Regions from separate parts of the Homo sapiens genome. Here region 2 is linked to region 1. Evidence: fine-mapped expression QTL. A gene starts in region 1. The other region holds a variant in brackets. All regions are shown on one strand. Distances are between the middles of the regions. Region 1 holds the start of PMM2 (phosphomannomutase 2). Region 2 overlaps PMM2 (phosphomannomutase 2).

The links. PIP is the estimated chance that this variant, and not a neighbour inherited with it, causes the effect.
Region 2: its variant is fine-mapped to the expression of PMM2 in subcutaneous fat (GTEx, PIP 0.94).

Annotation. Positions count from the first base shown.
Region 1 is chr16:8,796,297-8,799,205 of GRCh38, reverse strand. It overlaps PMM2 (phosphomannomutase 2), which reads right to left and starts at 1,367. Exons shown (of 8, transcript NM_000303.3): 1 at 1,258-1,367. The coding sequence starts at 1,323. TMEM186 (transmembrane protein 186) reads left to right here and starts at 1,567. Exons shown (of 2, transcript NM_015421.4): 1 at 1,567-1,594; 2 at 2,616-2,909. The coding sequence starts at 1,592. RefSeq lists enhancers at 584-1,278, 1,591-1,640, 1,279-1,973.
Region 2 is chr16:8,842,644-8,845,552 of GRCh38, reverse strand. All of the region lies in intron 7 of PMM2 (phosphomannomutase 2), which reads right to left. Among named protein-coding and RNA genes, the nearest start is that of CARHSP1, 25 kb to the left of the region's middle. The variant C/T (reference allele first, on the strand shown) is at 1,608.

The DNA of each region.
Region 1 (2,909 bases):
AAATAAAATTTTATTGGTACACAGCCACTCTTATTTATATAGGGTTTATGGCTGGTTTTGCACTAAAGTTGAGTGGTTACTATAGACCACATAGTCAGCAAAGACAGAGAAGTATTTGCTATATGGCCCTTTACAAAAAATGAATTGGGGACCGGAGTTTTAGACCACTATGGGCTTTTAACAAACCCAAGTGTGTGATCACTGAATTTCAGAATCAGAAAAAGCCTTTGAAGAACTTGGGAGTTGAGCGTCATCACTAGGTAAATCAAACCTGTGGCTGAGAAGGGCAAAATGATACGTCTAAGGTCACACGCATTTGACCTGGACTTCTGGAGCACACCATTGTTACCACCAAGCGAAAACTATGAGGGGTGAGGGTAGAAGCTGAGGATAGTGAGACCATTGGGGTCCAGTCTCAAGTTGAAATGGCCAGTGTTCAGTGGCCAATTTCTGAAAAGGGGCCAGGAGAGCCTCACCTCAAGGCTGATCGTAACTGAAACTTATCTGTGCCTGTAGCAGCAAAATCTGAAAGTGGAAAGCAAGTTTCCAAGGGCCCAAAGAGGCTCTCAGCGGGCAGCCTGTAATAACCTAGGGCTCCTCCATCTCCCTAGTCCATTGCAGGGGCTGGAGATGGGTGTGGTGGAGGTGGCTACTATTTACTGAGGCCTAGTGTGTTGTGTCCAACATACTTTCAAGAACTTACACAATCTCATTTGATCCTCACAGACACCATATGGAACAGGTAACATCCCCATTTAAAGCTGTAGATGTTGAGGCTCAGAGAGGTTAATGACTCGCTGAAGGTCACACAGATGTCAAGAGGTGAAGATGAGACTCCACTAGGTCGGTTTGACCTGGAAACCTGTTTTTAATATCATGACTCACGGCACAGCCCATTGGTTACAGGATTGGGGCCGACACATAGCTGATAAGGGGGCCTGATCTTGGGTTGAAATCCTGGTCTATCAGTCCCGAGCACTAGCGGTGAGTCCAGATTACATTTTCCAACCTAGCACAAGTTTCCTGCTCTTAAGAGTTCTTCAGCCCCGTCTCATCTTTCCAAGCACCAGAGCTCTTCAAGAGCTGGTTAGGGCCTCCCTCTCATTCCTCCAGTGCACCCAGAATAGGGTTCAGCGCCGTGAGGACGTAGGCGGTCCTTAGCCACCCCTTGGCGCCTACCCTGGGTGGTCGATAGCCCCAACTGGGAACAGCACGGGCTCCGCGTCGGCTGCCAGCAGCCCGCCGGCCGCCACTTACCTGCCGCGGGGCGGTGAGGGTCCCATCCACGTCGAAGAGGCAGAGCGCTGGGCCAGGCGCTGCCATGTCCCCAGTTTCTAGCCGCACCTTACAAGACACGTTGGCACGAGGAACTCGGCCCGGAACTTCCGGGTTCGGCCGCTGAGTCGCAGGGCACGTCGGGAAGAGGAGGGGACTCCGTTCCCATAACGCCTGGGAGTAGCGGCAGCCACGATTCCTGGACCGCAACTCCCAGGGTGCAACGCAGATCACGCCCGCCTTGTACATTCGAGCATGCGCTCTTAGGGGTTCCGGGGGCCGGTGGGATTTACTTCCGGCAGCAGGTGGTGGGGCCATGGTAAGGAGGCGGGTGGCGAGCCTTGAGGGGGTGATGCTCTTTGGGGTCGGGGTCAGGGCTGGGGCGGGCAGGCCCGACGCTCGGGTTTCGGACTCCGAGGATCCGTGGGAGGAAGCTCTGGCGTGTGTTACAGTTCGCTTTTCCCGGGCTTTCTCTTGCCCTCCTTGGGTCACATGCGCACAGTAGTAGTAGCTAAAACTCGCCGAGCTCTCACAGTGCATTAGGTACTAAGTTGAGGACTCTGAAACCATCCTCTGGTTCACTGTGTTCTGAGTCCCCATTTTGAAAGGCGAAGAAACCGAATCTCAGGGGTGTGGAGTAATTTGCTCACAAATTACTGTTGGAGCCAGAATTGGAATAAGAGCTTTTACTGCTTCACTACCCACCTAGTAATACCCTTGTGCTACGTGTTGGGGCCTCCCTGCCTCGCTCCTTCTCCTTCTCCGCTGTTTCCCCTTCCCCAGACTAGGCTAAGAGAAAGCAGCAGTTCCCTCCAGCACCCAAGATAGCATATGAATCAAACAGAGAATTAGAAAGTTTATTGGAATAAATATCTCACAGATTTGTTGCTCGAGTTCCCCACTAAGACACTGATTATTTAGTTTCCTGCTTGGGGAAATGTTCACACCCCCTTGTGGATACATTGTCCAGCCCAGAGTTTGTCCTCCCTGGATATGTTTTGAATTAATGACGGCCGCACCTCCTTTCCTGTATTTATTTGGAATTGCCTGGTGGAAGGAGGACTCTGCTGCACTCACTGACTGTGTGATCTTTGGTAAATATCTTACCCTCTCTGGGCTTAGTTTCCCTAGTGGTAAAGTGGAAATAGTGATAACTATCTTAGATAGCTGTTGTGATGCCCACATGAGATAGCATCTGGCTTTACCCTTCCCTCGTCTGGCAATAACGGTTACCTTGCAGGATTGGCAGAAGCCTTAGAGTATGGTGCTTTGCAGATGTTCACCGTGTGATTAATGTGGTTGAGTTCCATGAGAGAAATGGTCTACTGTCTCCCTTTCAGGCTGCCCTTCTCCGAGCTGTGCGTAGGTTTCGGGGAAAAGCTGTGTGGGAAAGGCCTCTCCATGGGCTGTGGTGCTGCAGTGGGCAGGAGGATCCTAAGAGGTGGGTGGGCAGCAGTTCACCCATCTCGAAGGAGAAACTACCAAACGCAGAGACTGAGAAATTCTGGATGTTTTACCGTTTTGATGCCATCAGAACCTTCGGGTTCCTGTCACGACTGAAGTTGGCACAGACTGCCCTGACAGTGGTAGCTTTGCCACCAGGCTATTACTTGTACTCCCAGGGCCTCCTCACT
Region 2 (2,909 bases), 46 kb before region 1:
GCCTCAAAAGAGCCAAACACCCTCCCCGCCTCAGTGACTGAGGAGGGGAGTCAGTATTCACACATTAACACAACACACCTTTCTAGAACACCTACTGTCAGGCCTCTGAGCCCAAGCCAAGCCATCGCATCCCCTATGACTTACACGTGTACATCCAGATGGCCTGAAGTAACTAAAGATCCACAAAAGAAGTAAAAATAGCCTTAACTGATGACATTCCACCATTGTGATTTGTTTCTGCCCCACCCGAACTGATCAATGTACTTTGTAATCTCCCCCACCCTTAAGAAGGTTCTTTGAAATTCTCCCCACTCTTGAGGATGTACTTTGTGAGATCCACCCCTGCCCGCAAAACATTGCTCTTAACTTCACCGCCTATCCCAAAACCCATAAGAACTAATGATAATCCACCACCCTTTGCCGACTCTCTTTTCGGACTCAGCCCGCCTGCACCCAGGTGAAATAAACAGCCATGTTGCTCACACAAAGCCTGTTTGGTGGTCTCTTCACATGGACGCGCATGAAATTTGGTGCCGTGACTCAGATCGGGAGACCTCCCTTGGGAGATCAATCCCCTATCCTCCTGCTCTTTGCTCCATGAGAAAGATCCACCTACGACCTCAGGTCCTCAGACCCACCAGCCCAAGAAACATCTCACCAATTTCAAATCCAATAAGCAGCCTCTTTTTACTCTCTTCTCCAACCTCCCTATCCCTCACCGTCTTTCTCCTTTCAATCTAGGCGCCACACTTCAATCTCTCCCTTCTCTTAATTTCAATTCCTTTCATTTTCTGGTAGAGACAAAGGAGACGTTTTATCTGTGGACCCAAAAAACCGGCGCCGGTCACGGACTGGGAAGGCAGCCTTCCCTTGGTGTTTAATCATTGCAAGGACGCCTCTGATCATTCACCCACGTTTCAGAGGTGTCAGACCACGCAGGGACACCTGCCTTGGTCCATAACCCTTAGCGGCAAGTCCCGCTTTTCTGAGGAAGGGGCAAGGACCCCAACCCCTTCTTTCCGTGTCTCTACCCCTTCTCTGATTTTCTGGGGCAGGGGCAAGAACCCCCCAACCCCTTCTCCTTCACCCTTAGCGGCAAGTCCCGCTTTTCTGGGGGAGAGGCAAGTACCCCAAACTCGTATCTCTGTGCCCCAATCCCTTATTTCCATGCCCCAACCCCTTTCCCGCTTTTCTGGAGGGTAAGAACCCCCAAACCCCTTCCCTCCATGTCTCTACGCTCTCTTTTCTCTGGGCTTGCCTCCTTCACTATGGGCAACCTTCCTACATTCCTCCTTCTTCTCCCTTAGCCTGTGTTCTCAAGAACTTAAAACCTCTTCAACTCATACCTGACCTAAAACCTAAATAAATGCCTTATTTTCTTCTGCAATGCCGCTTGACCCCAATACAAACTCGACAGTAGTTCCAAATAGCCAGAAAACGGCACTTTCAATTTTTCCATCCTGCAAGATCTAAATAATTCTTGTCGTAAAATGGGCAAACAGTCTGAGGTGCCTGATGTCCAGGCATTCTTTTACACATCAGTCCCTTCCTAGTCTCTGTGCCCAGTGCAACTCGTCCCAAATCTTCCTTCTTTCCCTCCCGCCTGT[C/T]CCCTCAGTCCCAACCCCAAGCGTTGCTGAGTCTTTCTAATCTTCCTTTTCTACAGACCCATCTGACCTCTCCCCTCCTCGCCAGGCCGAGCTAGGTTCCAATTCTTCCTCAGCCCCTAGACCCTAAAAGGTCAAAAGGCCGTCTTATTCTCAATATACATTTTATTACCCAATCTGCTCCCGACATTAAATAAAACTCCAAAAATTAGAATCTGGCCCTCAAACTCCACAACAGGACTTAATTAACCTCACCTTCAAGGTGTACAATAATAGAAAAAAGTTGCAATTCCTTGCCTCCACTGTGAGACAAACCCCAGCCACATCTCCAGCACACAAGAACTTCCAAATGCCTGAACCGCAGCGGCCAGGCGTTCCTCCAGAACCTCCTCCCCCAGGAGCTTGCTACACGTGCCAGAAATCTGACTACCAGGGCCAAGGAATGCCTGCAGCCCAGGATTCCTCCTAAGCCGTGTCCCATCTGTGCGGGACCCCACTGGAAATCGGACTGTTCAACTCACCTGGCAGCCACTCCCAGAGCCCCTAGAACTCTGGCCCAAGGCTCTCTGACTGACTCCTTGGCTTAGCGGCTGAAGATTGACGCTGCCCAATCGCCTTGGAAGCCCCCAGACCATCACGGACGCCAAGCTTTGGGTAACTCTCACAGTGGAGGGTAAGTCCACCCACTGTTTAATCGAAACGGGGACTACCCACTCCATGTTGCCTTCTTTTCAAGGGCCTGTTTCCCTTGCCTCCATAACTGTTGTGGGTATGGACGGCCAGGCTTCTAAACCTCTTAAAACTCCCCAACTCTGGTGCCAACTTAGACATTACTCTTTGAAGCACTCATTTTTAGTTATCCCCACCTGCCCAGTTCCCTTATTAGGCCGAGATATTTTAAGCAAATTATCTGCTTCCCTGACTATTCCTGGACTACAGCCGCATCTCATTGCCGCCCTTCTCCCCAACCCAAAGCCTCCTTTGCGTCTTCCTCTCATATCCCCCCACCTTAACCCACAAATATGGGACATTTCTACTCCTTCCCTGACAACTGATCACATGCCCATTACCATCCCATTAAAACCTAATCACCCTTACCCCGCTCAACGCCAATATCCCATCCCACAGCACGCTTTAAAAGGATTAAAGCCTGTTATCACTGGCCTGCTACAGCATAGGCTTCTAAAACCTATAAACTCTTCTTATAATCCCCCCATTTTACCTGTCCAGAAACCGGACAAGTCTTACAGATTAGTTCAGGATCTGCGCCTTATCAACCAAATTGTTTTGCCTATCCACCCTGTG